Homo sapiens: one gene and its partners. The protein of the gene in region 1 purifies or fractionates together with the protein of each later gene. This does not show direct contact. Each region holds a gene or a part of one and is shown on either strand. Other genes may lie near its edges. The genes, in order: FYB1, FER and PYGB.

The links.
Region 2: the proteins of FYB1 (region 1) and FER purify together in Homo sapiens (pull-down; one study listed by IntAct). This does not show direct contact.
Region 3: the proteins of FYB1 (region 1) and PYGB purify together in Homo sapiens (affinity purification with mass spectrometry; one large-scale study listed by BioGRID and IntAct). This does not show direct contact.

The regions. Positions count from the first base shown.
Region 1 is NC_000005.10:39,104,598-39,108,162, reverse strand, and holds the end of FYB1 (FYN-binding protein 1), read left to right. Parts: intron 1-697; coding exon 698-720; 3' UTR 721-2,911; downstream 2,912-3,565. UniProt on the Homo sapiens protein: Acts as an adapter protein of the FYN and LCP2 signaling cascades in T-cells. May play a role in linking T-cell signaling to remodeling of the actin cytoskeleton. Modulates the expression of IL2. Involved in platelet activation.
Region 2 is NC_000005.10:109,194,466-109,197,347, reverse strand, and holds the end of FER (tyrosine-protein kinase Fer), read right to left. Parts: 3' UTR 507-2,882; downstream 1-506. UniProt on the Homo sapiens protein: Tyrosine-protein kinase that acts downstream of cell surface receptors for growth factors and plays a role in the regulation of the actin cytoskeleton, microtubule assembly, lamellipodia formation, cell adhesion, cell migration and chemotaxis.
Region 3 is NC_000020.11:25,250,951-25,254,609, reverse strand, and holds part of PYGB (glycogen phosphorylase, brain form), read right to left. Parts: intron 1-3,659. UniProt on the Homo sapiens protein: Glycogen phosphorylase that regulates glycogen mobilization. Phosphorylase is an important allosteric enzyme in carbohydrate metabolism. Enzymes from different sources differ in their regulatory mechanisms and in their natural substrates.

The DNA of each region.
Region 1 (3,565 bases):
ATAGCTTGTTGGATTAGAGACTTCCAATCTGATCAGAATTTGAATCACTTGAAAATGTTAGAAAAGGTAAATGCCCTGGCATAATGGGGGGAAAATACCGCATTTCCCACAAGATGGAAAATTAAGGAAAAACCTTATTTATTTCTTTGAAAACAGAAGTATAAAAATATTTGGGAAATTTTTTATTGTACTGTGACTCATAATAAGAATTTCTTTTATCCAAGCAAATAAACATTTTTGGCAAATAAATAGGTACTTATTTCATAACCAGTAATACCAATATTCTCTAAGCATCATATAGTTCCAAACTGTAATCTAAAAAATTAATCTAACTGAAATGATGCAGTGTTGATCATGATTTCCTTTAGTCTTTTAAACTTATGAGTCTTGCTCTTTAATATCTTCAACCTCGTTCAGAGTGACTACCAAAAAGTATATGACTAAGTGCCACATAAAATAATCTTGAGTCTCATTTTAATAGAGAATAAATCTGTCCAGAAATTTTGTTGAATTATATACTAAATAATAAAAGTTAAATATATGATCTTCCATTTAACTCATTTTTTATAAAGTGAGCCAGTTCTATTTTTTTTAATCCTTAACCAGGAGAGTATGAATCACCCACATTTCCAAACTTGGAATACTTAGAGAATATGTTTTTAATAACTATATTTAAATTTGTATTTTTTCCTTTCAGGCTGCATCTATGACAATGACTAGCACTCAACTTTGGTCATTCTGCTGTGTTCATTAGGTGCCAATGTGAAGTCTGGATTTTAATTGGCATGTTATTGGGTATCAAGAAAATTAATGCACAAAACCACTTATTATCATTTGTTATGAAATCCCAATTATCTTTACAAAGTGTTTAAAGTTTGAACATAGAAAATAATCTCTCTGCTTAATTGTTAACTCAGAAGACTACATTAGTGAGATGTAAGAATTATTAAATATTCCATTTCCGCTTTGGCTACAATTATGAAGAAGTTGAAGGTACTTCTTTTAGACCACCAGTAAATAATCCTCCTTCAAAAAATAAAAATAAAAGAAAAAGGAAAATCATTCAGGAAGAAATGACCTGTCTAAAAAAACCTAAGGAAGAATAATAATATAAGAAAGGAAATTTAAAAACATTCCACAAGAAGAAAAATTATTGTTTATACTTCTACTTATGGTTATATCTTATATTCTCTATTCAAGTGACCTGTCTTTTAAAAAGGCAGTGCTGTCTTACCTCTTGCTAGTGGGTTAAATGTTTTCAAAAATTATAGCAGTAGTAGAAGTTTTGTATAAAATTTGTCCTTATTTGTTAATTGTATATAAATGTTAATTATTTGATACGAATGTTATGCATTTAGTATGCACATTGAAGTCTAAACTGTAGAAGAGTCTAAAACAAGTTCTCTTTTTGCAGATTCACATACTAATGGTTTAATTCTGTGCTCTGTTTAAAGTACTATTATAACTAGAGTAGATCTGAATGAGGATAACCCTAAAATCATGAGGAATGGAAGAATGGACCTTGAAACTACCTAGGCTTTTATGCATGGCACCTCTTTATAATGAAGACACTTTTTAAAGTTTTTGTTTTTGTTTCAATTACCGCTAGATTTTTTTTTCTCTTTTTTTAAAATCCATTTTACTGGAAAGTTGGCCAGCAGAGGGAGTAGAAATTATTAAAATTCTAGTGTTTGGATTGGGCCCTTCTCTAACAGTACATACTCATTCCCAAAGCAATCCAAAAACAAAATGTGAACCATTTGGGTTTCAAATGTTAAGAACACTAAATAGCATGATTTAAAAAATGAAAAATGCTAACACCCAAGAAAAGAAGATATTAAGTGCTTTTTAACAACTCCTAGAGTACAAAATGAGTACATCATAATGCTGGCTCTTCTACTAATGAACCATCGAGTGATATTGAATAAATTATTTATCTTCTCAGTTTCCTTATCTGTAAATTACAATATTAGACTAAGTAAGTTTTTCCAACTCTTCACTACCAATTACCTTAGGCTTTTATAATGCTCCGCCTACTTCAGTCCCATGTTTCAGAAGCTTTTGTCTATTTTTTAAACTCATTGATTAAATAATGATTAATGCATTCTCCACATTTTAATATTGCAAAGGCCCATTGGAGTTTCTGAAGTGGCTCCACAGAATTGAAATAATTTCAAATAACTGTAAAGGAACTGAAAATCTTCACAGAGATGAAGTGGGGTTTCCATTAGGTGCTTTGAAATTTGATAACAAATCATCAACTTCCACTGGTCAATATATAGATTTTGGGTGTCTGAGGCCCCAAGATTAGATGCCACTAATCTCCAAAGATTCCCTCCAATTATGAAATATTTTAATGTCTACTTTTAGAGAGCACTAGCCAGTATATGACCATGTGATTAATTTCTTTTCACACTAGATAAAATTACCTGGTTCAAAAGTGGTTTTTGTTTATTAAATTTGGTAATAAATATATATAATACACAGACAGGATAGTTTTTATGCTGAAGTTTTTGGCCAGCTTTAGTTTGAGGACTCCTTGATAAGCTTGCTAAACTTTCAGAGTGCCCTGAGACACTTCCAGCCATCCCTCCTCCTGCCTTCATTGGGGCAGACTTGCATTGCAGTCTGACAGTAATTTTTTTTCTGATTGAGAATTATGTAAATTCAGTACAATGTCAGTTTTTAAAAGTCAAAGTTAGATCAAGAGAATATTTCAGAGTTTTGGTTTACACATCAAGAAACAGACACACATACCTAGGAAAGATTTACACAATAGATAATCATCTTAATGTGAAAGATATTTGAAGTATTAATTTTAATATATTAAATATGATTTCTGTTATAGTCTTCTGTATGGAATTTTGTCACTTAAGATGAGCTGCAAATAAATAATACCTTCAATGGATAACCTTGCCTCCTACTTCATTAAAAAAATTGAGGCTAGCCAGATGCGGTGCCTCACATCTGTAATCCTAGCACTTTGTGTGGCCGAGGAGGGCACATTTCATGAGCCCAGGGGTTCCAGACCATCCTGGGCAACAAGGTAAAACCCTGTCTCTACAATAAATACAAATAATTAGCTGGGTGTGGGGGCACATGCCTGTAGTTTCAGCTACTTAGGAGGCTGTGGTGGGAGGATCACTGGAGCCTGAGAGGTCGAGGCTGCAGTAAGCCATGATTGTGCCACTGTCTCAAAAAAATTTACCCTGTCTCAAAAAAAAGAAATAAATATATTTTTTTAATATTGAGGCCATCAGGCTTCCTCTCTCTTAACTTGATCCTACATCTACAAAACAGTCTTTCTCTGCATCCAACCTTGACTCTAGCTTCAGCCTCAGAAGACGGGATATCTCCTCTTCAAGACCAAACCTTCTACCAAGACTCCTAATACTTTGACTCCTATTTTGTGTCAGAAATTAAGATAACTAAACGCAATTCCTTTCAATTCCCTACAACCTTTGACCTTAACCCATATCCAGACACTGTCCCAGAGAATAAGATGTCATGCCTTAAATTCAAAGCCATAACCTTTGGATCCCATTTCTTCCTGCCTTTTCTGGAG
Region 2 (2,882 bases), about 70 Mb from region 1:
ATGGCTCTGTGACCAGCTCAGTCCTGTACAGGACAGGCAAGGATACACATCTGAACTGCTCTAGGGTAGCAGGCTTCAGCCTCTGTTTCCAAACATCTCTCAGCCATCTTTCTCCCGCAAATCCTTGTGTTATGTCAAACAAATCTTGTTATGAAAAGCAAAAAAAAAAAAAAAAAAAAAAAACCCAAAAACCCAAAAGTAAAACACAAAAATCCACGCAAATAGCGAATCCACCCAGATAACTGGGACTTGAGCTCCATTACAGTTTTGATTTCTAAACAGGAAGCAGTGATTGGACTGTAAGCAACACACACCCATTATCATCAGAACTAATAAGCTTAATTACAGAGAAACTGAAAGCTAATAATTTTTATGCACTGTTATATCCCTAGGAGGCCAGTTACCATGGAAATCTTGCCTGCCTTTTCTTCCACTTGGAGCATATTTATATGGAAAAGGAAGAGAAATATAAACATGATGGAAAGATTAAATAAGACAAGGCACAGTTTGCTACAAATATTTTACATTTATTATAGGAATACAATAAAGAGGTTCTGCAGACACATGAGTGGTAACTGGTCTATTGGAAAAGAAAAGACAATTAAAAAATGATCTAAGTTTACAAAAATGATGAATCATGCTTTAAAAATGTAGAAACAATTAAAAAATATCCTACAATGTTAGCCAAAGTTCAAAGTGTATTTCTTTTGAATGTAAAAACTAACAAATAAATAAGTGTTAAATACAGATCTGAGTAAAAATGATAAAAGATAGACAACCAACTGCTTTATATATTTAGCTTTCATCCATTTTTCAGACTTGTTTATAAAGCCAGATAAACCCGCCAAAGCCTTGTTTGTGTTTTACACTGAACTTTCCAGAAGAAGCACCCTATTTCCAGTGTTTATCCACTTCACAAATACATTATCTTAAAACAACAAAAATGATTAAAGGTGCTTTAGCCTAACATTAAATGGACCATAAATCGGCAAACCACAGCAGTGCTTTACTCAAAATGCTGCTTGCAGGTGGAATGTCTTTACCAGAAGTGCCTGAGGGCCCCACTCCTACTCCATCATCTCAAACTCATCTATCAAAAGGAAAAGGAAGGAACTTAGAAAAATCATATTTCCACAACCATTCACTAAGAGAGCCCTAGACTAGAGGGCCACCCACAGTCAAATGAATGGCATGGGCACCATTTGTACATTTTGTCTTGGCTTTCAATTTGCTTGGATTCCTGAAGAAGTCAGGGCTGTTGCTGGAACTTTGACAACTTGATTTTATTCTTCCATTTTTTCATCTGGGCTTTCCCATATGGTTCTATGTCTATGACTTTATACAGTGTTCCAGTCTTTTAGGGCACTTGCCAGAAGAAGCCAGACAAAACCAAGAAAAAACACGAAGAAAACCATAACATAAAGCCAGCAGAATTTGCACCACCACCAACCCCCACTATATTCATTCAGATGCTCAATTGGGCCATCTAACTTAATGCATTTAAATGTAAATTTATGTAAAATCTATAGACGTCTGACTAAAGAAGCTGTTTCAGTGGGAAACCTCAATGCTCTGTAAAGAATGATGAACAGAAATGGCCCATAAATATGCTCCTGGCCACTGGTCCACATTGACAGTCTGATCATGTCACAGGATGCAACTGGGTAGCTGACATTTTGTATAGTAAAGTGAAATGCTCAGCAGGTATAAGAGTTTCATGTCTTTGGACACTTTGGTCATGGATTTGAAATAACTAAGACCCCTCTCGACCAGTTCCCCTTTGTCTGTGATTTTGATTTGATGCTTAGAATCTATATTGGGGATTGAATTTAGAATCATAGGATTATAAAATTTACTTGTTATGGGAAATCAGATGAACCTTGTAGAACCAATCTCTTTGACACTAAAGCCAAAAATAGTGAATTCCATTGGAACATGTACATATTCTGTACACTGCAGGTATGAGAGGTCTAGAATCTAAGGTGGAATTATGACAAGTTATTTTCTGTTGGACTGGTCTTCTGATTGTTACTGAAGCAAAGCAATTCACATTGGCATGGCATGGGATAGACCTCCATAGCATCTTATAGTCTAAATACAAGCAACGTACTTTAATTAAGGAGAAAATATTCAAAGTCCTATCAAGCATGGCTCTGGGCACCTTTCCCTCGGCATTTGCTTCCAACTGTCTGGCATTTAAGAGCAGGCAGGCAAGTTTATTTCTACCAGGTCAAATTATTTGTAAAAGGGAAATTCCTACATAAGAGGGTGTGTTTCTTTCTTTCTTTTGGGTTTAAAAATAAAAGCACGGACCAATGAGGTGGGAAAGACTGCCAGGCTGGTTCTTTTACCTAGGATCTCAGTAATACCAGATTCCAGATTCCCTCTCGGCCTCTAAGGCTCTGAATCCAGGTTAGAGGTCTGAACCCCTCCCCCCGTCCCCAAATGGGGGGCATTTAGTTTTTTGTTTCATAAATACTGTCCAGGCAACTCAAAGAAGACACCAAGGTTATACTATTTGACAACAGCTATATGAAAAATGACTTTGGATTCTGTTTCCTTTCCTGCTCAGTTTTTTGCTGCTCCAGTGTATGAATTGAGATTTATTTTTTAAGGCCCTCCTACATTTATCCTGTGTTGCTCAGAACGCCGACGTTTCCCACTGATATCTGTCCTATACTTTCAAAAGAAGGTATGATCTTCTGGGATCAGATGAATTGCTTAAGTGGTTACAGTTTTTGCAAGGGTGTTCTAACTGATGACAGTGGGGTAAAGTGGGATTTCTATTGTCTTCTTTGGTTACAATTTGAATCTGGCTTCTTACTATGTCATTTTAGAATCTGCTTTGGATACTATTTACAACGTGCTTATTCTGATTCTTA
Region 3 (3,659 bases), on another chromosome or scaffold:
CACTTACCTATACCTAAAATTACATGTCATTCCTACTCAAGGTACTGTTGAAGACACTGTTAACCGAACTTCTCTTACTGTCCAATTACCTTTCTAAATCTGTGTTCACTTCTCTTCCCTTCACCGTATCCTAAGAATGCCATTCTGCATGGGTGAGAAAAAGCCAGCTCCTATCTCCTGCGGTTATTTGCTGCATGTCTTAGGATGCTTTGAATTTCCAAATGGCTTAAAGCTTTGATCCGTTTAATAATAATAATAATAAAAGATATAATCTGAAAAGACTTCTAAAGTTCTCCCAATTATTTATTTGTATTTTTTACAATTGTATTATTGCATTTTATTTGTATTTATTAAGCAGGACAGCTGGTGACACTGAAAAGATTTGCAGACAACAGCACTGTGTTGATTAAAATGTCCAGAGTTTAACTGCTCTACTGTGGGTGTGTAGGAGAGCTTCCCTGTTTTTCCGGAGTACTCACTGCCGTTTTTGGGGGTGAAGGGGCAACAAGGCTATGACTCAGTTTTTTTTTTTTTTTTTGAGACAGAGTCTCGCTCCGTTGCCCAGGCTGGAATGCAGTGGCGTGATCTCAGCTCACTGCAACCTGCTCCTCCCAGGTTCAAGCAATCCTCCTGCCTCAGTCCCCCAAGTACCTGGGACTACAGGCGCCCACCACCATGCCTGGCTAATTTTTGTATTTTTAGTAAAGAAGGGGTTTCACCTTGTTGGTCAGGCTGGTTCTTACTTTCAAATGATTCGGAGAAAAATGAACTTACAGCGACAAAATGACCTAACAAGTGTGTTGCAATGTTTAACATCTGGGGAATCCGGATGAAGCGTCAACAGGAATTACAAGAAATCTCTGTATTATTCTTGCAACTTTTTAAGGGTCTGAAATCACATAAAGTTTAAAAGGAAATATGGCTGAGATGTGGAGGTGAGGTCGGTTACCTTATTTTATTTTATTTTATTTTATTTTATTTTATTTAGGCAGAGTTGCCCAGGCTGGAGTGCAATGGCGCAGTCTTGGCTCCCTGGTTCAAGCAATTCTCCTGTCTCAGCCTCCCGAATAGCTGGGACTGCAGATGTCCACCACCACGCCCGGCTAATTTTTGTATTTTTAATAGAGACCAGGTTTCACCATATTGGTCAGGCTGGTCTCGAACTTTTGACCTCAGGTGATCCACCTGCCTCAGCCTCCCAAAGTGCTGGGATTACAGGTGTGAGTCACCACGCCCGGCCATATTTTATAAAGCCACCACGGCCCCTGTGGATTAGTCAGGGTTCTCCAGAGACACAGAACAGTAAGGTATGTGTAGAGAGAGACAGATTTAAGAAATTGGCTCAAGTGATTCTGAAGTGCAAGGCCACAACCTACAGAGTGGGGTGGGCCAGCAGGCTGGAGACCCAGGCAAGCTGCAGCTCTGGTGCAAGGTAGCTGGTGGCAGGGTTTGTTCTGCAAGGCCTTCCCCCATGGGAGGCTGTGAAACTGTGATGTAATGAGATATACTTATTTGTTCTTCCTGGCCTGTGCTCCTAACACCCTTGTAATTTCCTAAGTGATAAGAGCAATAAAAATGAAAGAAGTGTCTTTTGTTATTCATAACAAGTCCCTTTCAACCACGCCTGATGTGGTCACCAAAAGGTGACTTTTGGCAAGCCCCTCAGGGCAGAGGCTGGCTGCCAGGGGAACCAGCTCTAATTAGAGGGTTGGAAGTTTCAGGCCCACCCCTCCCGCCAGCCCCAACCTCCAGTGAAGGGAGAGGGGCTAAAGGCTGAGCTCATCACCAATGGCCAATAATCACACTAGGTAACTGCGGCCTCCATAAAATCCCCAACTGAAGGGGATGGAAGAGCTTCCTTCCAGTTCAGTGAATCCTGGAGGTGCTGGGACAGTGGCACCTGCAGAGGGAATGGAAGCCCCTGCACCCTCCCTCAGACCTGCCCTCTGCATATCTTCTATCTGGCTGTTCCTGGGTTGTATTCCTTGTAAGTAATTGGTAAACGCAAGTGAAGTGTTTCCCTGAGTTTCATGAGCCATTCTGGCAAATCATCAAACCTGAGGAGGCTGTCGGTCAGAGGTCAGAAGGGAGGTCCTGATGTGCAACTGACATCTGGGGTGGAGAAGTCTTGTGGGACTGAGCCTTTAGCCTGTGGGATCCGAGGCTACATCTAGGTAGACAGCATCAGAACGGAACTGAATTGTAAGATGCTCAGTCAGTGTGGGAAACACCACCCCCCGACCCCCCCAGAGGGACATCCACGTTACTATCTAGGCACAACAGCCAAGTTGACACATAAAACCAGCCACCACAGCCTGCAAGGGCAGAGGCCAGGCTGTCTTCTGCAGAAAATGAAGGCACACACTGTAGGCTTCTCCATCTGCTAAAATGACAGCTGAGGCCTACCTTCCAAGTGGCTAGCTGTCAGCAACACAAAACAGCACCCACCATCAGCTACTGGTCAGAGAAAATGACTTTGAGCGATCTGCTGTCAGGGAAGCCTGCCCAGGAGATGCAAGCTCAACTTCACACATAAAAGTGGAAATACATCAGAAAAATTGGGAGTGTTAGGATTCCGGAGGCTGGTACCACAACTGACTAATTAAAACAAATCCCAGAAGTGGGGATCACAGAGCAGAAGGGTCTGCAAAACACTTCTCTAGATCATCTTCTTTAACTCCTGGGTCCAGCCAAACCAAAAGATTAATCGTATTTCATTGTGTTTATCTCATTAGGAATATTTAGGACAGCAGTGTGGGCCCCAAGGTAGAGCTGCTTTTCCTTAATCTGTGTTGTAGTCATGCCAGGAGCTTATGGGAAGAGTCTCAAAAACTGATTGTTACATCCACTGCAGGGGTGCTGCAGGTCAGTGGCTCAGCACATCGACAACACAGCTTCACAAAGGCCCACAGAATAAACCGTGCAACTGTCCTTTCAGGATGTTATAGAAGGGATCCCGTGACTCTCATAACTGGGCATGGGCTGCTTTCACTGCCAGGATCCTGGTCTGTGTTTTGTGTCCTGACCCTCACTGTCCCACCCCAACCCTCACTCTGAGGCCTTCTAATGTGAACCTTTTGTGCTGTATCTAGCATAAGCATCCTCAAATTCTCTCTGGATAGAGATGGAATGTCAATTCAATATGAAATAGAAACATTTTAACTCTAACATTTCAGAATGGCAACAGACTTCGGAAACATCACCAGCTTGATTCCCCTCATTTTAAAGATGAGAAAACTGAGGCCAATAATGGCAAAGAAATCCGCCCAAGCCCACAGTTGCACAGACCGAATGGAAAGGCCAGGATGAAAAGGAGCGTGGAATCACGCACACCCTTTCTTCTCCATGCAGCGCAATCCCAGGCTCTGCAGCTTCAGGTTGGACTCTCCTTGCCACCTTGCCACCACTTCAGAGAATCCATTAAATGTCTTCATGACCAACCGCCACCTCTTGCCAAGCACAAAGCTCTCCATGTTAGCCAGATGTTTTGACGTGCTGATTTGCCAAGCATGGCAAAGCTTGACAAATCTTCCTCTGAACACCCCAACTTCTACTCTTTCGCTATGTACCACAAATAAAGTGCTAAGAGTTATGAAACAATAGGTTCAGTATAATGTTATTTTATGTATTAAAAACAAGTTTCTGCCAATACGGAAAAA